Homo sapiens: one gene and its partners. The protein of the gene in region 1 interacts with the protein of each later gene in a biochemical or structural test. Each region holds a gene or a part of one and is shown on either strand. Other genes may lie near its edges.

What was found.
Region 2: of the proteins of MAPK3 (region 1) and GAB2, one has a biochemical effect on the other in vitro, tested with the Homo sapiens proteins (2 studies listed by BioGRID).
Region 3: of the proteins of MAPK3 (region 1) and MBP, one has a biochemical effect on the other in vitro, tested with the Homo sapiens proteins (5 studies listed by BioGRID).

What each region holds. Positions count from the first base shown.
Region 1 is NC_000016.10:30,119,853-30,127,608, forward strand, and holds the start of MAPK3 (mitogen-activated protein kinase 3), read right to left. Parts: upstream 3,369-7,756; 5' UTR 3,358-3,368; coding exon 3,188-3,357; intron 2,155-3,187; coding exon 1,972-2,154; intron 1-1,971.
Region 2 is NC_000011.10:78,225,494-78,232,977, forward strand, and holds part of GAB2 (GRB2-associated-binding protein 2), read right to left. Parts: exon of another isoform or gene 6,872-7,484; intron 1,559-6,871; coding exon 972-1,558; intron 689-971; exon of another isoform or gene 1-688. UniProt on the Homo sapiens protein: Adapter protein which acts downstream of several membrane receptors including cytokine, antigen, hormone, cell matrix and growth factor receptors to regulate multiple signaling pathways.
Region 3 is NC_000018.10:77,129,457-77,137,114, forward strand, and holds the start of MBP (Golli-MBP), read right to left. Parts: upstream 3,328-7,658; 5' UTR 3,124-3,327; exon of another isoform or gene 1-3,123. UniProt on the Homo sapiens protein: The classic group of MBP isoforms (isoform 4-isoform 14) are with PLP the most abundant protein components of the myelin membrane in the CNS. They have a role in both its formation and stabilization.

The DNA of each region.
Region 1 (7,756 bases):
ATAAGTCAGGGCTGTCTTTTAGAATCTGCCTTGAGACCAGGCATGGTGGCTCATGCCTGTAATCCCAGCTCTTCAGGAGGCCAAGGTGGGTTGATGACCTGAGGTCAGGAGTTTGACGCCAGCCTGGTGAACAGGGCGAAACCCCGCATCTACTGAAAATACAAAAATTAGCCGGGCGTGGTGGCAGGCGCCTGTAGTCCCAGCTACTTGGAAGGCTGAGGCAGGAGAATAGCTTGAACCTGGGAGGTGGAGGTTGCCGTGAGCTGAGATTGAGCCACTGCACTCTAGCCTGGGCAACAGAGGGAGACTCCATCTAAAAACAAACAAACAAAAAACAAAGAAAACAAGAATCAGCCTTGAAAGGGTCTTCAGAGAATATGTGGACCAGCCCTGCTGTTTTAGGGCTGGGGAGGCCCAGCGAGACGCAGTGACTTGCTTCAGATCACACAGCGAGCTGGGGGTGAGCACGGAGATTTCCTGTCCACAGTTTGTGGTGGGGGTTGCAGACACCTCAGTACAAATCCCCACTCTTGGGTGGAGGGCTGGGACTGAGAGTGGGTGGGTGGGGCAGGGAAGAAGTGACAGGTGTCATAAGTTGCTAAGGAGAGCCAGACAGGAAGTGGACAGCAAACTAGGAAAGCAGTATTGGGGGAGGACAGCCAAGGCTAGGCTGTCCCTCCCTGGGCAAGGTGCAAGTCCACAGGTGATTAGGGTGTGGCTCTGAGTGAGAAGTCCTAAGAAGAAGGACAAGTTCCCATCTGGGGGAGGAGAGGAGGAGACAGCAACAGAAACACTTGATTTTAGGTTTTCTGAGCCTTAGCTTCCTCATCTTTTTTTTTTTTTTTTTTTTTGACAGGGTCACGCTCTGTCCCCCAGGCTAGAGTGCAGTAGCACAATCATAGCTCACTGCAGCCTCGAACTCCTAAGCTCAAGCCATCCTCCTGCCTCAGCCTCCCAAGTAGCTGGGACTATAGTCGTGTACCACCAAACCTGGATAATTTTTAAATTTTTTGTAGAGGTGGGGTCTCACTATGCTGCCCAGGCTGGTCTTGAACTCCTGGCCTCCAGTGATCCTCTGGTCTTAGCCTCCCAAAGTGTTGGGACTACAGATGTGAGCCATTGCACTCCACCCCTCATCTTTGAAATGAAGCTGAAAAGCCCATCTCATAGGGTAGTTGGGAGGTGTAATAGAAAAAAAAAAGCATTGGGCATGTATAGTACCTGACACACAGCAGGCCCTCAAGAAAGGCAGTTTTTTGTTTTTGTTTAGTTTTGAGACAGAGTCTCGCTCTGTCACCCAGGCTGGAGTGCAGTGGCACGATCTTGGCTCACTGCAACCTCCAGCTCCTGGGTTCAAGCGATTCTCCTACCTCTGCCTCCCAAGTAGCTGGGATTACAGGCTTGCACCACCATGCCCCGCTAATTTTTTTGTATTTTTAGTAGAGATGGGGTTTAACCATGTTGGCCAGGCTGGTCTCCAACTACTGACCTCAGGTAATCTCCCACCTCAGCCTCCCAAAGTGCTGGGATTACAGGCGTGAGCCACCACGCCCAGCTGACAGTTTTCTTTCTCCCTGTCTCCCTTCCGGTCTGGGCAAGGAGGAAAGAGAGGAAAGAATCATCCATTCCTTAGCAAGAAGTGACTGTGGGCAGAGGCCAGGTCATGTCTCAGAACTGCCGACGTCAGAAGACACCACTCCCATAGAGACCATCCTGCCTAGCCCTTCCCCCTGGGGCACAGAGCAGAGAACCCACTTGCTCGAGGCCATACTGCCTGGGCCGCTGCAGGCCTGGGTTCATCAGAGGTCTCCAAGTCCTGTTACACTGTGGCTTCCCCTCTGCAGGAAAGTTTATTTTACTGGGTTTGTTTTGGAGGGTGGTGGGTAAGATGGAAACAGAAACCAAGCAACGGGTCCCCAGCCCAGCTGCGAGGCCGTGCCTGACCAGCCGACTGGCCAAGGTGAAGGATACACATCTCTCATGGCTTCCAGGGTGGACGCCCGCAGAATGTCTCGGATGCCGATGACATTCTCATGGCGGAAGCGCAGCAGGATCTGGATCTCCCGGAGCGTGCGCTGGCAGTAGGTCTGATGTTCGAAGGGGCTGATCTTCTTGATGGCCACGCGAGTCTTGCGCACGTGGTCATAGGCCGAGCTGAGGGGACCGGAGAGAGGCTGCTGCTGTGGCCTTACAAAGGGGGAGTCCGGGCCTGGTGGCCCCACCCAGGCCTTGGCAGGGAGGGGAGAGAGCAGGAGCTGGCTCTGGTCAAATCATAAACAATGCTGGTTCCTTCCTGCTGTGGAGGCCTGGGATCTCCAGAGAGAAAGCTGGGGACCAGCCAGGCGGCCCTTCGGTGACTTTACAAACAGAGGAAGAGACTGACCGCTCACTGACTTCCCCTCTCCTCAATCCCCTTCCATTCTACTGGCCCTGAACCCTTCGCCCCCATTCCCAGGAAAGGCTCCTTAACCCAAGACAGGTCCGGGGGTGCAGATGCTGGGGACACACCATGGGGCAAATACTGGGAAGGTGGCAGCCAGGGGAGGGGCAGGAGAGAATGGACAGGGCAGGGGAGGGTCCCAGGGTGAGGGATCCGGGCAGCGGGGCTGTCCCAGAGGGATAGAGGCCCAGAGCACACGGTGGGGCCGGGGGCACTCACAGACCCCTCCCAAAACATGCAGGTGGCACTCCTGGCCGCCTCATCTCTCTCTGGGCCCCTGGGGTGGTGGGGCCAAAGCCCTGCCCCACCCTGATCTCGGCTCTTCTCCCCCAGGCTCCCTGGCACTGCCTCACAGGGGGAATCCAAGACACCCTTTCCCCCAAAACGGGCCCTCCACTGCCTCTTCACTAAGGATGTCGCCTCCCCGAGAGTACTCATCCTCTGGGCCTCGCCCCGTGTCACTAGGGTCCCCGCGGGCCCCCACATGCACTCGGATGCCCCTCCCATCATTACAGAAGGGTGGACTCAAAGCCTCCAAGCCTGCTCCCCTGAGGACGTAGGCAGCGCCCCCTCCCCCAGAAAGCACTCAGGGGCCCCCTCCCTGGGACGCTCCCGATCATCCCGAGTCTCCTGCCTCCTCGGGACGCTCCGCGTCTCCACGTCCCGGAAAGCGCTCGGCGCCTCCTCCTCCTCTCCCGCGAAGCCCCCTCCCCTGAGGGCACCCCCTCCCCCGGAACGCCCCCTCACCTGACCATGCCGTACGCGCCCTCGCCGATGTACTGCAACTGCGTGTAGCGCGGGCCCACGTCGAACGGCTGCCCCTTCACCATCTCCACCTCCCCCGGGACCCCCGGGCCGACCCCCTCGGTTCTACGGGGCTCCCCGCCCCCGCCCCCCTGAGCCGCCGCCGCCGCCATCTCCACTCCTCCCCTCCCACCGCCCTCCTCCCCACGGCGGCCCCGCCCGAGGCCCCGCCCCTTCCCGCCTGCCTGTCACCCGCAGGGCCGCGCGCGCCAGGCCCCGCCCTTGCCCCGGCCCCGCGTGGGCCTGGAGCTGTCACGTGACCCGCCCCGCGCGCGCCCGCCCTTCTTGCCCCAGGTTCGGGGGCCATGGGTCCCTGCGGGCTCCGCGGCCTCCAGGTCACCGGGAGGTTCGGCAGCGCCGCCTCGGAGACTGTCCTCACCCTCCCCTCGATGGCGAAGCGGCCAGGGCGTGACCTACCAGAGCCACCCAGCCAATGTATGCGGCAGCCCACCAGAACCTGGGCCCGGGATCACCCTAGGTTAAAAATAATGTTCTAATAAATGGATCAAATTTTACAGATGGAGAATCTGAGAGTTAGGTTTACTAACTTGGGTAAGGTCACTAGTAGTGACAGCTGAGACTCAAAATGGTGTCTTCTGACACAGAGACTCTTTCTAATTCCATGCCTCTCAGAGTCCTAGACTGTTTTTATTTTATTATAGAGACAGGGTCTCTCTCTGTCGTCCAGGCTGGAGTGTAGTGGTGCAATAATTGCTCACTGCAGCCTCAACCTCCCTGGGGTCAAGTGATCCTCCCACCTCAGCCTCCCAAAGAGCTGGGACTACGAGTGCGCGCCACCACGCCCTGCTAATTAAAAAAAAAAATTGGGGGGCTGGGCACGGTGGCTCACGCCTGTAATCCCAGCACTTTGGGAGGCCGAGGTGGGCAGATCACCTGAGTTTGAGACCAGCCTGACCAACATGGTGAAACCCCGTCTCTACTAAAAATACAAAAATTAGCTGGGCATGGTGGCACGTGCCTGTAATCCAAGCTACTTGGGAGACTGAGGCAGGAGAATCGCTTGAACCCGAGAGGAGGAGGTTGCAGTGAGCTGAGATTGCACCACTTCACTCCAGCCTGGGCGACAGAGCAACACTCCGTCTCAAAAACAAAAAACAAAAAGAAGAAGAGAAAAAGTAGGGTTGCAGAAGGTAGGGACTGAAGAAAGGCATGAAGGAGAAGGATCGGGGTGAGCTGAGGCATAAAGGCAGAAGCATAACTTGTCCAGCATGGCTGCAGTAAAAAAATGATGAGGTTTCAGCCTGGAGAGGTAGGTTGGGGCCAGATTAGGAAGGCTCTGGATTCTGGCAAGGAGTTTGGATGTTACTCAGTAAGCAGTAAAAACCCTAGAGGGACTTTTGCCAGATCATTTTGCAACTGCGGGAGAATATAGTGACTCAGAGAAAACACTATGGAGTTCAGCATGGAGCCAGGTTTGCTGAGTGGGAGTGAGTTTCCCAGCATAGGAAAGGCTGGTGTATCAGAGCTGCAAGCTGCCACCTCCTGCTGCTGGAAGCTCAGTTAGAGTGTGACTGAGATTCCCCTCTAGTGACTGAGGTTGGCATTTCCTTGGAGGACTGGACTGGGATTTGTTCTGGTTCATAGACGCATATTCAACTAATGTAGACTTACCATCTCTTCTGTGCCAGGCACTTTTGGTTTTTTTTTGTTTGTTTGTTTGTTTGTTTTTTTGAGACGGAGTCTTGCTCTATCACCCAGGCAGGAGTGCAAGCTCACTGCAACCCCTACCTCCTGGGTTCAAGTCATTCTCCCACCTCAGCCTCCCAAGTAGCTAGGATTACAGGCGCCAGCCACCACGCCCGGCTAATTTTTGTATTTTTAGTAGAGACGAGGTTTCACCATGTTGGCCAGGCTGGTCTCAAACTCTTGACCTCAGGTGATCCACCCACATTGGCCTCCCAGAGTGCTGAGATTACGGCACCTGGCTTGCCAGGCACTTTTATGTACACTACCTCCTGTAATCCTCACAGCAGCCATATGAAGTAGATACTATTAACATTTAACTGGAAAATGATGCTGGCTGGTCGTGGTGGCTCACCTCTGTGATTCCAGCACTTTGGGAGGCTGAGGCAGGCTGATTGCTTGACCCCAGCAGCTGGAGACCAGCCTGGGCAACATAGTGAGATCCCATCTCTACCAAAAATACAAAAATGAGCTGGGTGTGGTGGCATGCGTCCGTAATCCCAGCTACTTGGGAGGCTGAGGCAGGAGGATCAGTTGAGCCCAGGATGTTGAGGTTGCAGTGAGCTCTGATGGTGCCACTGCACTCCAGCCTGGGTGACAGAGTGAGAGACCCTGCCCCCACCCCCACCCCCCCAAAAAAAGGGACAGAGGGAAAACGATGTGGAAGCTTACGCTCTGTCACCCAGGCTGGAGTGCAGTGGCGCGATCTCAGCTCACTGCAAGCTCCGCCTCCCAGGTTCACGCCATTCTCCTGCCTCAGCCTCCTGAGTAGCTGGGACTGCAGACACCCGCCACCATGCCTGGCTAATTTTTTGTATTTTTAGTAGAGACGGGGTTTCACCGTGTTAGCCAGGATGGTCTCCATCTCCTGACCTCATGATCCACCTGCCTCGGCCTCCCAAAGTGCTAGGAGTACAGGCGTGAGCCACTGTGCCCGGCAGAATTATTTTTCTAGCACAGGGTCTTGCTCTGTTGCCCAGGCTGGAGTGGAGTGTAGTGGCAAGATCATAGGTCACTGCAGGCTCGAACTCTTAGGCTCAACAGATCCTGCCACCATGCCTAGCACACACAACCACGCCTAGCTAATTTTTTTTTTTTGTTTTTGAAACGGAGTCTTGCTCTGTTGCCCAGGCTGGAGTGCAATGGTGCAATCTCAGTTCACTGCAACCTCTGCCTCCCGGGTCTCCTGCCTCAGCCTCCTGAGTAGGTGGAACTACATGCGTGTGCCACCATGCCTGGCTAATTTTTTGTATTTTTATTAGAGAGGGGGTTTCACCGTGTTAGCCAGGATGGTCTCTATCTCCCGACCTCGTGATCCGCCCGTGTCGGCCTCCCAAAGTGCTGAGATTACAGGTGTGAGCCACTGCGCCCAGCATTTTTTTTTTTTTTTTTGAGATGGAGTCTCCCTCTGTGCCCAGGCTGGAATGCAATGGCACAATCTCGGCTCACCTTGACCTCTACTTCCCAGGTCAAGCGATTCTCCTGCCTCAGCCTTACAAGTAGCTGGGATTACCGGCACACGTCACCACGCCTGGCTAATTTTTATATATTTAGTAAAGATGGGGTTTCACCATGTTGGCCACGCAGGTTTCAAACTCCTGACCTCAAGTGATCTGCCCACTTTGGCCTCCCAAAGTGCTGGGATTACAGGTGTGAGCCACCGTGCCTGGCTTGGCTAATTTTTAGAATGTTTGTAGAGAAGGGTTCTAGCTAATGTTGCCCAGTCTGGTCTCAAATTTCTAGGCTCAAGTGATCCTCTCACCTCGGCCTTTCGGAGTGCTAGGATTACAGTCATGAGCCACTTCGGCTGGCTCCAGATTAAATCTTAAACCAGTTATTAGCTTTTTGTGATTTTCAAGGTCTGGCACTTCTTTTTTTCTTTCTTTCTTTCTTTTTTTTTTTTTTTGAGGCAGTGTCATGCTGTGTCGCCCAGGCTGGACTGCAGTGGTGCGGTCATGGCTCACTGCAACCTCTGCCTCTCAGGCTCAAATGATCCTCTCACCTCAACCTTCTGAGTAGCTGGGACCACAAGCATGTGTCACCATGCCCAGCTAATTTTAGTATTTTTGGTAGAGATGGGGTTTCACCGTGTTGCCCAGGCTGGTCTCAAATGATCCGCCCACCTTGGCCTCCCAAAGTGCTGGGATTACAGGCATGAGCCACCATGCCTGGCCTGAAATAGTTATTTATTCTTCTTATTATTAGTAGTAGTATTCTGGTCTTTCATGACCGTAGACTTTTGAAGATTATAGGTCAGTTATTTTGTAGAATGTCCCTCAGTTTGGGTTTGTCTGATATTTCCTTGTGATTCTCATGTCACTTTGCCTTTACTATTGTATTGTATCGAGACGAGGTTCACCATGTTACCCAGGCTAGTCTTGAACTCCTGGTCTCAAGAGATCTGCCCACCTTGGCCTCCCATCATGCTGGGATTACAGGTACAGGTGTGAGCCACTGCGCCTGGCCTTTCTTTTCATTTCATTTCTTTCCTTTTTTTTGAGACAGGGTCTCGCTCTGTTGCCCAGGCTAGAGTGCAGTGGCATGATCACAGCTCACTGCAGTCTCAACCTCCCAGGCTCAAATGATCTCCCTTCCTCAGCCTCCCAAGTAGCTGGCACTACAGGTACACAATACCACATCTGGCTAATTCTTTTTGTATTTTTATTAGGATGGGTTTCACCATGTTGGCCAGGCTGGTCTCAAACTCCTGACCTCAAGTGATCCACCTGCCTTGGCCTCCCAAAGTGCTAGGATTACAGGTGACAGCCACTGCGCCTGGCCTAATTTTTTAAATTTTTTGTAGACACG
Region 2 (7,484 bases), on another chromosome or scaffold:
CCCAGCCATCACTTCTCTGAACACCACAGTAACAATACTTGTCCTGATTTATATGTGTTGGTTTTATTTTCCCAATGAGATGTAAGCTCTGAAGGGCAGGAACATGTTTTATGTATGTCTTTATCATCTCAGTTCCAAAACGGAGTATGACTGCTCAAATTGTCGATGGATTGAAAGACGGCAAAGAGGTCTAAACTAGGAGCTGGGACTCTAGGGTCTGAGTCTCATCTCTGGCACAATGACTCTGCAACTCTATTTAAGTCTCTTAACTGTCATTGGCCTCATGTGAGATGGAGACAAGGAGGTTTTGTCCCACCAACCTCTCTGCCTGGCTTAAACAACAGGATGGACAAGAAAAGGCTTTGCAAACCATAAAGCAAGATGCAAAATGAAAGGAATTAATATTGTTCTATTTTTTCATCATACAGAGGAGGTTACATGCAGAGTTGGAATACTCTCAGTGGAAAACAAGTAACAATAGAATTTAGGTACTTCAAATAAAAGTTTTGACTTCAACCAAAGAGATTCAAGTATGATTTAGAAAATATTAAGACCTCGTTTTGCTTTAGCAGTCTGTTAGTCCACACAGGTTTCACTCCAGTTTGGACTGATCTTCTGAATTTATTTTTTAAATCTTTGATTTGATTTACAAATGAATAAAATACAATGATTTGGGCTTCTAAACCCATAATATGTTATACTGTGGTTAATCAAGAATGTCCTATTCTCCATTAGTAGAACATTAACTTCTCTGGGGCTAGCTCTGTTAGACAACTACTACTAACAGCCTCCAGTGCTGGAGGACCAACTGGTAAGGGATCTGGGTAGAAGACACCTATGTTTTTGAGTATCAGTGACCTAGGTGGTTCGTAAGTTCCCCTCGGCCATGGATGACCAAGGACCATCAAACTATTGAGAACCCCTGTGTTACCTCCTCCTCCCTCTGAGTCTCAGCTAGGACTTATACTGACCTCGGTGAAGTCGGCTGTTGTCCATTGCAGGGAGGGTGTTGCGTCTGGGGATGGTGGCAGCGACAGATCTGCTATTTTCACTGATTGGCGGTCTCTGCTGAGGACTGCCCCATCGAGGTGTTTCTGCCTGACTTGGCTTGGGGGGGCGGGGTGGGGGAGCTATGGCTGAGTCCCCAGGAGTGGCCACTGTCATGGCATTGTGGTTTTTGTCCAGAGTGAATGTCCTAGGGATCTGGTAGGCTGAGAGTGGGGTGGCCGGAACATCCATATTGTCTACCAGGAGGTCCCCGAACTCCCTGCACAGGGTGTTGCTGGGCGTCTTGAAGGTGTACACATCCTCATTATCTGTCTCGGAGCCTGTGAGGCTGCCCTTGGTGTGGCCATGGGAGGCCAGGCTGCGGGGGAGGTCGTAGGTACTGTCTCTGAATTCTGTATTGTGCCGGCTCGGCTTGGGAAGGCTATAGAAGCCATGGACTTGACCACTGATCCCGTTGACACAGTGTCCATTGCCCTGGGCAAGTTTTTGTACAGCTGTGTCACTCCTCATGAGAAAAGAGGCTCTGGTGCCCTGAGAGAAGCTGGCACTCCTAAAAGAGAAAGAAGGGAAAGGGCAGGAGGGTGAGACAATTACTAGCTGTGTGACCTTGAGGCAAAGCACTTTCTCTTTCTATACTTTGGTTTAGGCATCTGTAAAATGGTGACTAAAAGCATATTTTGAAGGTTGTTCAGACTCTAGTATATGAATGTTTAAACAATGTTAGACTTCATCCGTCCCCCATCTCCAAATGGCAGTTAATAGCAGGGGTTATAACCCCCACTCCCTGAACAAGTATCAATAAGCCAGATGGATTGCCTATTTGTTCACTGTTTTAAGTACCGCAGAATATGCACATTCGAACACAAATGTTGTGAGACAGTGGAAAGAACCTTTAAGTTGATGACAGGAAACAGCAAACAAGTCATTTTACCTCTCTGAGTCTATTCTGCCACTGTGAAACTAGCCCATGGGTATTGATGTTGTAAGTTGAAAAGAATTATTTGGGTCAGGTGCAGTGTGCAGTGGCTCATGACTGTAATCCCTGCACTTTGGGAGGCTGAGGTGGGAGGTTCACTTGAGGCCAGGAGTTCAAGACCAGCCTGGGAACACAATAAGACTCCATTGCCACCAAAAAAAAAAAAAAAAGAACTAGCTGGGCAGGGTGCTGCACACCTGTAGTCCTAGCTTCTGGTGAGGCTAAGGGAGGAGGATCGCTTGAACCCAGAAGTTCGAAGTTAGAGTGAGCTATGATCGCACCACTGCATTCCAGTCTAGTAAACAGAATGAGACCCTGTTTCAAAAAAACACACGCCCCAACACAAACAAACAACAAACTATTCAAACGTAAGCTCTAGATTTATTTTCTACCATGATTTATGGTTGGTTAAGAGGCATTTTGAGGGGAAAGATCTCTTTCCAGAGACCTAGAAATCTATATGAAGAATGGTTTCCTGTTTGGGAACTATATATAGAAAAAGTTTTGATTAGTACATTTTTAAATTTAGGTTTTGGGCAATAAGGCAAGCAGTAAAAAGAGAAGAGAAACAAGAGGGGAGACTTGTGTTAGGTTCCAGTACTGCTACTGATACGTGCTGTGTGTATCACCAAGCCTCCTCTCTCAGGTGGGACCTAGTACGTCACAATGATTTCTAAGGGCCCATCTGGCCCCGATGCTCTACAAGCCCTTCGTTTCACAAGAGTGGTTTTCAAACTAGATTCCAGGTTCTCTGTAAGTGCTTTGGGAAATTGGAGGGTGAGGTTCTGAGCAAGCAGGGATTTAGGTCTGCTTCTTTAGCTTGTGTATGATTCTTCATAGGATTTCACTTGGGGAAAAAAAGAATCAATCCTTTGTAGCAGGGATTCTAAGCCTTTTGGAGGCTATAGGAGTTTTTAAGATTCTGGTCAAAAGCTCTTGGAGTGTCTCATCAGAAAAGGCAAATCTCGTATACATATAAACTTGTTGGGGCTGTAATACATAATAGCCCTCTGAGGCCAATCCCTGGACCTTTTGCCTTATAGAAGCTCTCTCAGCTCCTGAGGAGTTTGTTATTTACAGATGTGGCCACCAGATGGTGTTAGAAAATAGGGGCCAGAGCTTAGAAAGAGGAAACAGGTGTGTAAAGCCAGGCTTCCTCTCATGTAAACTGTACCCACCATGATGGCTAGGAATTCCAGGTCAGTCTCCAAACCTTCACTGATGCTCCTCCTTGGGCCTCTGCACTCCTCCTCCCTTTCTGTTCCATTCCAGACACATAACCAAGCCAACAGCCATGGGCTTGGATGATTGAACATCTAGGCTTTAGATAATGTAGTGCTTAGGGAAGAGGACGGGGGTGGCGGGGGGAGCGAATGGTAGACATAAGGTGTTAATGTTGTATGCATTTTTTTGGTGCCTTTCATTTTGCTTTTTTTGGAATTTCCAACTCTCTGTTGGATGCTCCCATCTGGATTTGTTCATTTTACATTTACTGATGTCCTAATTTCCATCTGGGCCAGGCAAAAGGGATACAGAGATGCCACCTGCCCAGTGAGGGGTGGTCTGGGAATGTCACAGTAGGGCAGGAGATGACATGGATGCAAATCATTACAGTCAAGTAGGGGTGAGTATGTAGCTGCTGACAGTTGGTATCAGCCCTTGCTGGGGGTGGTGGTAGACAATGTCAGGGAAGCCTCCTTCAGAGATGTTTTATCTTGAGTGAGTCTGGAAGGATGAGCCACAACTGGCCAGGCAGAAGGCAGGAGAAGGGAAATGGTGTTCTAGTTGAAGGCTCAAAGATGTAGAACACAACCTGGCAAGTTCTAGAAACTCGAAGCTGCTCAGGCTGCAGCAAGCACATTAGAAGGCAGGGCTGAGAGAAGACACTGGAGGCCAGGCCAGGACTAAAGGGAACGGGGAGCCTCTGAAGGATTTCAAGGTGGGGATGGGGTTGCAAGAGCATCACAGGCACCCTGCAATAACCTTCAACATACTCAAGAATGAACTCATCATCTTCCTCTGGAACTCTTCTCCTCCTGCCTCTCTTATTTTGGGAATGGCAACAGTTACTCAAGCCAGAAACCTGGGAGTCACCCACATTATGATTTCTGCCCAGGGCCTCTCTGATCCTTCCATCCTACTAATATTTACTTTCCTAACTTCCCAGTGTAAACATTTTCAACACCGCCTCAATGCTTCAGGATTAAGCCCAAACTCCTAGGTTTATCCCAACTCATCTCACCAATCTTTTCTCTTTAGTTCCCTTTTCCACTCTAGGATCCAAACCAAACTTTGCAGTGTTCCCTGTGTGCCCCAGTTAGTCAAGCATTGGGCTTTGCTGCATTGTTGGGCTGTGTCTGGAAGGCTTCTTACCTCAATCTGGCAAGTTCCTACTCCATTTATCCTTCAAACTCATCTCAGAAGACACATTTTTTAAGGCCATTCTTACATCCTCTACCTCTAAGCATTGCTTAACTTAATCACTTGCTTAACTTTGTTCTTGGAGCAGGTAGCAAGTGTTACCTATATTAGGCACCATTACTACTTATCTCTGCCAACAGACTGTGATTTCCTTGAGGAAAGAAACTGTGTCTTACTCATTTTTCTCTCCTTAGCACCTAGGTTAATGCTTGTTGCATTATAAATAATGAATAAACGTTTGTTGTAAGTAAGCAAATGAATAAACAAACGTATGTTGCTGCTATCCCTTTTCCTGGGCTTGGCCCAAACCTTCTGATCAGCAGATCAAAGCCCTTCCTCTGTAGAACCCACTAGCTTACGTTCCAACTTCCCTCTACCCCGGCATCCTCCTGTCTCGCTCACAGAACTACTCACTCATCCCTAAACATGTCCTGTGTAGTCTAAACTTCAGCCCTGGTCTTGCATTACTCACCTCCCTGTGGAACGCTTCCTTGATACATCAACACCTTACACAAAGTCCACAAGAAGCCTTTTCACTCTACAAAGGTATTACAGGTCCCTAATTCTCCTTTTTATGGTAATCATTCCTTCCTCTGTGCTACCACAGCACTCTGTGCTTCCATCGCAACACTCACCTTATTCTGCCTTATGTCAGTTATTCAGGTCTGTGTCTTTCCACTTCTACCAGACCATGTGCTCCTAGAAGGCAGAGGGCCATATCCTGTACCCTGGCATAGTGCCAGGCATATGATAGATAATAGTGACACATGTTGAGGGAGACTGATTATCACCTCAGTAACCAAGTAAGAGGAGTTGAACAAGGGACTCTTGCCCAAAGTTACATACTCAGAGGGCAGGGAATTTGTTCTAGCAGCCAGGTCTCTGGGTGCCCCCACTGCGCAAACCATGCTAAAATGTGGTCCCTTTGGGCAATAATCTAGATGGGGAATTCCAAATACTCAGCAGTCTTATGGCCTTTAGTATTTTCATGTAAACCTTAACTGAGGCCTGTGTCACTGTGATGACCTGAGTTGCTTTTGTGGGATGGATAATCCACCTGGAAGTGGTGGATTTGGAGAGAGGCTTCTCTTCCAGGGCTGGGCTTACAGAAGCCTTATAAAATAGGCAAGATACTATGCCATACATATCACATGTGATCTCATTTTAAATCCTCCTAATAGTTCTGAGACACACCTCTTACTTTCACATTATCAGATGAGGAAAACAGTAAATGGCAGAGTTGGAGCAGGAAGATACTCAAACACAAGCACGTATGGGAGCTCCCCAGAATCAAAAAGAAGTTTGAGAGAAGATATTCCCTCAAGCCAGCAGTGCCAAGTGCCTTCCCTTTCCATTCCTGGCCAATGGCTCTTCCAGAGGCTATAGAGGCTATTGCCACCATACAGTCTCTCCCTTGGTGCGCGCGCGCGCGTGTGTGGTGTGTGTGTGTGTGTGTGTGTGTGTGTGTGTGTCGGAGTCTCATTCTGTCTCCCAGGCTGGAGTGCAGTGATGCAATCTTGGCTCACTGCAACCTCCGCCTCCTGGGTTCAAAGCGATTCTCCTGCCTCAGCACCCTGAGTAGCTGTGATTACAGGAGCGTACCACTGCACCTGGCTAATTTTTGTATATTTAGTAGAGACGGGGTTTCATCATATCGGCCATGCTGGTCTCGAACTCCTGACCTCGTGGTCTGCCCGCCTCAGCCTCCCAAAGTGCTGGGATTACAGGCGTGAGCCACTGTGCCCGGCCTTCCCTTGGCTTTTAAAAATGGTTTTCTAGTTTTTCTAGCCACTTCATTTTGTACTTGTTCTTCCACACATTTTCATATAATTTTATATACCATACTATATGATGATTTTGCTTTTTTCTATCCCACTGGACTCCAAGAACCCTAATGATGAAGGACTCACTTTGATTTTCAATGAGTATGTTCCCATTTAAGGGTGACTTAATATAAAATGCTTGTAAGTAGATTAAACACCATTTAGAGTTCTGTAACTGTCACTGGCCATGTTTAAGAGGTCATTTGAACTATCCTCTTGCATTTGACCCATTCCAAATGGATCCTTCCTGTGAAAGAAGAAAACTCTGTGTCACAAATCTTTATGAGATGAGGCAATCTTTGTATCTCAAACCCTTCTGGCTGCAGTTCTGAGCCAATTTTGGCAGGACTCTGGTTACAGAGCAAAGCTGTATATGTGAAACTAAAAGTTGTATATTTTGCCTTTGGTCAGTCAATCAAAGCCTCTGGTGAATGAGTCAGGGAAGACTTAGAAAAGATTAATGATGGGTAAGCTCTCCACTGACATTTCTAATTTTACCATTTACCCACCATCTTTCTATAGACTACTGCTGCAGGGTCAGTGATTCTGGAATCTCACCAATGAAATTTCACTCCTAGTAACCCTCACCAGAATTATGGCTTTTCAGGGCATGTGACTCACATCAATGTATCATCTGTTACAGGTTTAACAGCCTTCTTGAAATAAGAAGACAGACACTGGCTAGAATCTGGAATGAGGCCCCAAAGGCTGGAGGACAAAAATAAGTCCAGTGAAACCAACTTGTCTTCAAAGAGAAAAAGAACTCTATTTGTCTTGACTCTGCCAGTTCAAAACTCTTTCCGTTGGCAATAGATATTATTCTGAATAGTTACTTATTTTAGCTCAGTGGAAGACCTGCATTTTGAGAAATGAAGTTATTTTAGCAAGAATACATATTATCTAGTACTTGAAGGAAGACTAGTGGCTATTATTGCAGTAAAAGTGATGATAAATACATAATTCACAGTTTTATTTCTAAGGTGCTTAATTTACTGTATCTTTACAATCAGGTTCCCACATAAATGAAAAAAGAGATAGATAGAAGGCTGGTATTAGTAGCCTCAGTAATCCAATCAGACACAGTTATGTCTAGTCTATGCGAGGCAGGATGAATGGGCTGATTCACTTTATACCCCCTACTCAAAAATAATCTTACAGGATTACTTTGGAGATCATATGAGGTACCTAATGTAAAAGTGCTTTGTAAACTTTAAAGCATCATTTCTTTCTTCCAGAGCACCTAGTATATAATGTGA
Region 3 (7,658 bases), on another chromosome or scaffold:
ACCTCTGCATAAGCCATTCCTTGCCATGAGTCTCTAATGTGTATCTCCACCTGCTTCTGTTTCTCTGGATGAAGCCTGTCCACTACAGGTTTTGACAGAGATTTAAAATCTCCTGTAGAGACTATTCCAGCTACTCGCCTGGCATTTCTGCTCAGCTGGCATTAGGGCCTGTGGCATGAGCACTCTTCCCTTAAACAGCTCCAGAGCTTCCTTCACGGGTTCCAATGGGCCAACAGAAGTGTCTTACTACTTAATGGCCACTTATTTAAAATTATCCCAAGAGTAATTAGAGGCCAGGCGCGGTGGCTCATGCCTGTAATCCCAGCACTTTGGGAGGCCGAGGTGGGTGGATCACTTGAGGTCAGGAGTTTGAGACCAGCCTGGCCAACATGGTGAGGCCCCATCTTTACTAAAAAACAAAAACAAACAAAAAAACGCAAAAATCAGCCAGGTGTGGTGGTGCGCCCCTATAGTCCCAGCTACTGGGGAGGCTGAGGCAGGAGACTGTTTTGGATCCAGAAGGTGGAGGTTGCAGTGAGCCGAGATTGCACCACTGCACTCCAGCCTGGGTGACAGAGCAAGACTCTGTCAAAAAAAAAAAAAAGAAAAAGAAAAGGAGTAATTAGAATATTTTCTTTTCTTTTTTATTGACAACTAAGAAAGCTAAGGAGAAGATGATGAACAAAGACGGATGACAGTAGCCTTATGGTGAAATCATTCTTGAAAGGAAACCTGTGTGGGACATCTCTGGGTACACTCACTCATCATTGGGGTGGAATTTTAAAAGGAGGAACGAGGAGCACCTTTGCAAGGCATCCTTCTCACCACGGCGGTGCAGAGCAGCAGTCAGGCGCTGGTGCAGACTCCCCGGATGGAATCCCGCCTCTTCTTGTGTGCCCTTAGAGTAACTTAACCTCTCTGGGCCTTGTTTCCTCAACAGTAAAAAATGAAGATATGAATAGGATGGTGACATCCAGTGAGGGCATCCTAGGGCCGTCCCGACTGTTATCCGAGGTGACAAACCGCTCTCAAAAGAGAGTCTGGCAACGTGCAAGCAGTCGATAAACACTCCCAGGCGACAGAAAAGGCACAGAGGCAGCTGCTCATCTTAAGCATGTCATATTTTTAAAGAACTTGGAGGAGGATTAAAAGTCAAACAAAATAACTTACAATTAACATTTACAAATTCAGGCAGAAATAGAAACATCACAAGAAAGTTTGGTCTCTTGTTTTTTTTTTTTCTTTTTTCCCCAGCGTTTCGTGGCTACCTTTAATCAGCGCACACAGCTAGGACCACCACTGACCAAACTCAAACCCGACGTTTTAAATCATGGAGGAGCCATGAGCTACCAGGTGTAAAACAAGCGACGTGTCTTACACTTTCTTATCTTTGGGCAGAACTGTGATACTTCTGGAGGATTTTCAAAGAGGATTTGAACAAAATAGCTTTGTTTAACCCGGAGTTAGTAGAAGTGGTTGTTTCAGAACAGTTAACTCCCTGGGAGTTACTCCAGCATTTACAGCAATTTTTAACTGTGTTCTTTTCCCTCAGATTTCTGTTTTTCCCACAAAAAAAAAAAAAAAACAAAACCTCAAAAAACAAAACACACACACGCGCGCACGCACGCGCACACACACACACACACACACACACACACACACACCCCCTCTGCCGCGGTACCCTTCCCCTGGCCTTCCTCCACTGAAGGGCGGCTGGGTTCCAGGCTCTCAGCCGTGACCACAGCCCCGGCCCCAACCGCTAAGGAGGTGCTCATCACTGGAGGTGGCCGCCAGGGAGCTCAGTGCGGGACCTGCTCAATCCATACGGTCCCCTGACTTGAGGGTGACCGTCCTTAAACTGTCCCCCGGAGCTTCGCCAGATAAAATGTCCAAAACACACACTGGAGTTCCCTGACGTTTCCTTCCTCTGAAAAACTCTCTTTCCAGGCGGGGCGTTCTGTGGTCAGACGAGGCAGAGGCCTCCCCGGAACGAAGTCCACGCCCCCTCCCCACCCCAGCACCCAGCGAGCCCACGCGCCCCTCACCCACGCGCAGAGAAACCGAGCACTTGTTGATTCTCACGTTGTTGCAATTGGAAAACGGAACAAGGAACCAGAGCTCGCCTGTTTCCAGCCAGAGTCGCACGGGGGTCCCCAAAGACGCTTGAACCTTTTCCCAAGCCCCACTCCACCTTCCAAAACGGGGGGGCTCAGGTGGACGCGAAAGGACACAAGGCGCTGCCCCCAGCACCCCGGAAAATCTAGTGTGGCGGCAAATGACCGCAGGTCACACACCCCGGCCTCGGGGGCCACGGAAAACGGACGCACCCGGCCCAGGACAGGCAGTGGGGCCCAGGAGGGGACTGCCGGGAAGACCCGGGCGGGCCGGCGGGCGGCTGCGGGCGGCGCACGTGGGCCCAGGTGGGCGCAGCGACGGGCCCGGCCGAAGAGCCCGAGACAGGCCCTGCGAAGGCGGAAGCCCGGACCCGGGCTCTCCTGGCCGCCCCTGGAGCTCAGAGGGAGACTGCGCTTCGCCCCGGGGGCAGGGGCAGGAGCGCGATCGCGCGCGGGGCCCCCGGGGTGTGATTAGCAGGCGCCGCGAGCCGGGAGGACCCCCCAGCCCGCCCTGGCAGCCAGCACCCTCTCCACACCCGCCCAGAGTGGCCGCTTTTGACCGCCGTCCCCTCCCACCCTAGACTCCTCCCCTCAGCCCCACGGCCCGAGGCCGAGCGGTTTCAGCGACCCTGGGACCGCCGGGCCTGGCTGGAGTCCACCCCTGGACACCTGTCAGGGTCGGGCCCCGGCGCTGTAAACCCGCGTCTACACCCGCGCCCAGCCCCCGCGCAATGGGGATCGGGGGCGGCGACTTGGGTTCGGGTCAGGGAGGCCGCCGGCTGCTACCTGCTCGGCCACCTGCTCCGCTGCCTAGGTTCTCCCTGCGCGTCCCCAGCCAAGAAAGGGACCCGGAGTCCGGGCGTCGGGATAGCTCCTGTCCCCGATCTTGCGCCCCCGGCTCCCGCGGGGCTCCGGTCCGGGGTCCCGCCCAGGTCTCCGCGGTCCCCACTCGGAGGGGCACAGAGACAAAGGCGGCAGAGCAGCCCGCCCGTCCCCGAGGGTCACCCACCGGCGCTGCGCTCGTTGCTCCGAGGCCGAGGGGCGCCGCGGGGTCCAAGGCCCTGCTCCGCCTGCCCAGGCCCGGGCAGGCTGGTCTCGGCTTCAAGCGCCCACGCGCGGGGTCCCCGGGCAGCCTGCTTCGCCTTCCGGGGTCGGGAGACAGGGGCCGCCGGGGCCGGAGGCTGCTTCTCTCTGGCGCGCGGCGGCGGTGACTGACGGCGGCGGCTCCGAGGGACGGGCGCGCACCCAGCTCCCCGGCCCCGCCTCCCCGGGCTTCCTGCGAGCCAGGTAAACACAGGCCGATCCCGCCGGGCCCGCCCCACCTGGACGCGGCCGCCGGCGCCGCCCCGGGAGCTCGGAGGACCCCGGGCCCGCTCTGCCCACGCGGAACTTGGGGGGCGCACGGGGCCCACGCGCAGGGTCAGACCTCGGAGGGGCGGCCTGGAGCCTCGCCCGCTGCCGAACTGGGCTCCGAACTGCGGCCCGTCGACCCTTCCCGTTCGGAGGCTTGGCCTCCGAACCCACCCCGACCCCGACCTCGACCTCGCGGGAGGGGTGCCAGGCCGCATCTCCCCGCGTCCTCAGGGGCTGGAAACCCCAGAAACTGCCGATAGACTTGGCGCAGCCCCGGCCCTGCAGGAGGAGAGTCAGCCCGGCCTGGAGGCGAAAGGAGCCGGCAGGTCCTCCCAAGGCACTCCCTCCCTCCCCTGGAGCCCAGGCCAGGCCCATGTCCGGCTGGCAGGTGCTCCTCTGGGAGCTGGGAGCTGGGAGCTGGGAGCTAGGGGCGCACCTTCTCCTGCAGGACCGGCGCAGGAAGCGTGCGCGGAAAAGACAGCAAAACACGCGCAGGTGCGAGGAAGCAGCCTGGTCCTGCAGCCCAGAGACATCGTGGTCTTCGTCGCTGTCTTGTTAAAAAGAAAAAGCCTGCTGTTTAGCCGTGACTCACCTGCACACAGATTTAGTGGTCAGAGATCTTTCTCTGGATTCTCAGCCTCCTGATGGTGGAAGAGGAGGAGGTTGGGGGAGTCCCAGAATGAGGCCCCGCGTTCCTCCTGACCTACACCCCCAGTCAGGGATCTGGATCTGGAGCTTCCAGGGGACCTGGAGCAGCCTGGGACCCACACAGTTTGTTAGGAAGTGAGGGAGAGGGGTGAGCGCTGTCCCGGCCCGCGCTGGGAGGCGGGACTCAGACTTCAGCACGGGGTCGGGGTTTCGGCCTAAAACCAGCCTCCCCCAAAGCCCCGGAGGATTTAGCAACTGTCTTCAAATGCTGGCAACTGGAAGAGAAATACTTCCACAACGACGCAAAAGCATTCAGTCTGGTCGTTTCCTCAGGAGAGATTTTCAAGTGGAGGGGGCAGGAGGGTTCTGAGACTTTGAGGCTGAAGGTGAGGAGGGAAAAGGGTGCCAAAGATAGTGTGTTTCTCCAATTTTTCTGCCCCACAACCTCACTTTAAGTCAAGGATGAGCGGAGTGGGCGTGGGAGGCTGGACAGCTGCCCTAGGAGCACGGGTGGTGACAATGAACCCGGGTGCACCCAGGTCCCAGCTCAAGTCACTCAAAGCTCAGGCTGGGGAAGCTGGAACACTAAAATGGGTCCCATTTTAGATACCTGCTTTAGCATCAGAAACAGCTTTTCCTCCCCAAAATATCTCTTGGCTTTATCTCAGTGACTCCACAGGGCGGGGCCACCTTCCTGCCTGCAGATGTCCCTGTGTGCTGGGCTCTGGAGCGTCCCTCAGGCCACAGTGACAGCTGCACACGCGGCCTTCTGTTTGGTGCTCCTTCTGCTGGTGTTACAGTGGTTTCCTGAAACACTACATATGCCAACAGTCAGCCCTACAAATGTCAGGCTCCACAAGTTCCAGTTAAAAGTCTTTTTAAAGTATTTATGAAATTTCACCGTGCATATTTTGTTGGGATAGAGTGTCCACACAGATGGGCAGCCAGGCAGTTTAGAAAAGTCATGGATTCTTCAAAGAAAACATGTAGATAATACTATTTAATAAAACAGTGGATTCACATTTGGATCAACTGGTCTTATCTTGGGGGCTTTCATGCCCTCCCGGTTAGAAAAAGGACCCCAGGTTGAGGACAGTGGATGGAAGAAACAGAGGCTGGCATTTCACTGTCGAGAGACAAACTTTCACATGAAGATGTCCATGTAGCCCTCAGCAAAGTGACAGAGATTCGTTGTGCTGAATAAAATTGAAAGGCATCTTTTGACAAGTAACCCATCAAAGCCTCATTGTGTCTTTGACATTTCTAAGAAAATCACATTGCAGTTACCCCCATCTTTCACAAGGTACCGGAGAGCAGAAAGTTTGACCTATCCATCATCTCATATGGCAGCAAATAGCAAAATGTTTTGTGCATGAAATACACTCAATAAATTTTTGTTAAGCTGAATTAAACTCCAAATTACCCAAGCTAAAGGAAGTAAATGAATCTAAATAGTTTCCAACAGACCTCAGACTGCACGAACTTTGAGTTTTCTTTAGTTTCCTCATCAACAGATTTGTCTTTGTTATGATGTTTTGCTTAGGAAAGGACTGAACTTTTTTTTTTCTTTCTTTTTTTTTTTTAGATGGAGTCTTGCTCTGTGGCCCAGGCTGGAGTGCAATGGTGCAATCTCAGCTCACTGCAACCTCCGCCTCCCAGGTTCAGGCAATTCTCCTGCCTCAGCCTCCCGAGTAGCTGGGATTATAGGCAACCGCTACCATGCCCAGCTAATTTTTGTATTTTTAGTAGAGATGGGGTTTCACCACGTTGGCCAGGCTGTTCTCGAACCGCTGACCTCAGGTGATCCACCTGCCTGGGTCTCCCAAAGTCCTGGGATTACAGGCCTGAGCCACCACGCCCGGCCAGGACTGAATATGATTTTCAGACCTGGTCTAAACCTCTCTGAGCCTCAGTCTCTTCATCTGCAGTGTGGAGGTAATAGTCATCCTCATATCAGGGCTGAACACTCTCTTTCTGCAGCTCAGGCATCGGTGGATACCCAGGTGTGGAGGTCTCCCTCATTCATCCAGGGGTTGATCACAGTTGTTTCCAAACAAGTGGTACTTCAGAGGAATTCTGGGCTGGCTCTTCAGACGTTACATCTATTCGCTCTGTTGCAATATATATTCACAACCTCGCCAGTGGGGCTTACTTCCCACGTGAGGGTGTATTAGTCAGCTCAGCTGCTATAACAAAATACCACAGACTGGATGGCTTAAAAACAGATGTTATGCCAGCTCTGGAGCCTGGAAGTCCAAGATGCAGGTGCTGGCGGACTTGGCGTTGGGCGAGAGCTTGCTTCTTGATTCATAAACAGCACCTTCTCTATGTGTGTCGGGTGGTGGAGGGAGAGAAAGAGGAAGGGGAGGAGACTGGGCTGTGGCCTCTTTTTCTTATAAAGACACTAATCCCATTGTGAGGCCACCCTCACGGATTCAATCTAAGCCGAACTATCTTTCAAAGACCCCATGTCCAAATACCATTCCCTGGGGGTTGCGGCTTTGACATATGAATTTTGGGGGGATAGATGTGCAGTCCTTAATAGAGGGTTAGATTAAGACATAGGGAAAAAAAGGAATGAATACTCAGCTTCCAATCTAGTTAACAGAGTTCCCTGCGGGGGGTGGTGGAATGAGTGCCAGCCTCCCCAGGAGCTGGGAAGGAGCTGGACTGGGCAGGAATAGAGTGAGGGATAGGAGAGCCTTAGCCAGGTCTGTGGGGTGGGTGGGGGTTGTGTGTGTGCTGGACTTTGTGCTACATTTGATGCTCCTATAACAAGGGGATTAAATGTGACATCTTAATAACCAGCCCCAGGAAGCAGCCCGAGAGGACGGGAGGGTTGCCGGGAAGTCCAGAGCATGCACAGTGTGAATGTGCATGGGAGCCATGGCAGACCCCAGAGGGAGCCAGGAAAGGCTGTGAGGAGACAGCGGCCCTGTTGCAGGGGTGGGGTCAGCAGCCAGCTCTGAGGGAGGGAGACGGGCCCTGGAGGGAGGGGCTCAGAGGCAGGGTGAGTGGGAACCAGGAGGGCTTGGCCCTGGCTTTGGGGACCTCCCACTTCTGACCCAGACCTGCCTCCACGGTGCCCCTCCTGCCTCCACGTTCTTCCTGTACCAGGCTTCCTTTCTCTGGAGTTTGTCCTCAAAGGTGGAAAAACTGTGTTTCTACAGTGAAAGTTCACTGTTAAGGGTTGAACTGTGTCCCCGAAGAGAGAACTCGAAGTCCTGACCACCTAATACCTGGGAAAGTGACTGTGCTTTGAAATAGCCTTTGCTAGTGTCATCAGGTGGAGATGAGGTCCTTGGGGGGGTCCGGTGCGGTGGCCATGTCCTTGTAAGCAGAGGGGACACTCAGAGGGAAGAGGCCACATGGAGACAGAGGCAGAAGTGAGAGTCATACATCCCGGAGCTGAGGGATGCTGGGGGCAGCAGAAGCTGGGAGAGGCACGGAGGGACCCTCCCCTGCAGCCCCTGGCAGGAGCACAGCGCTGGCCACACCTGGATTTCATACTCCTGGCCTCCAGACTGAGAAGCTACATTTCTG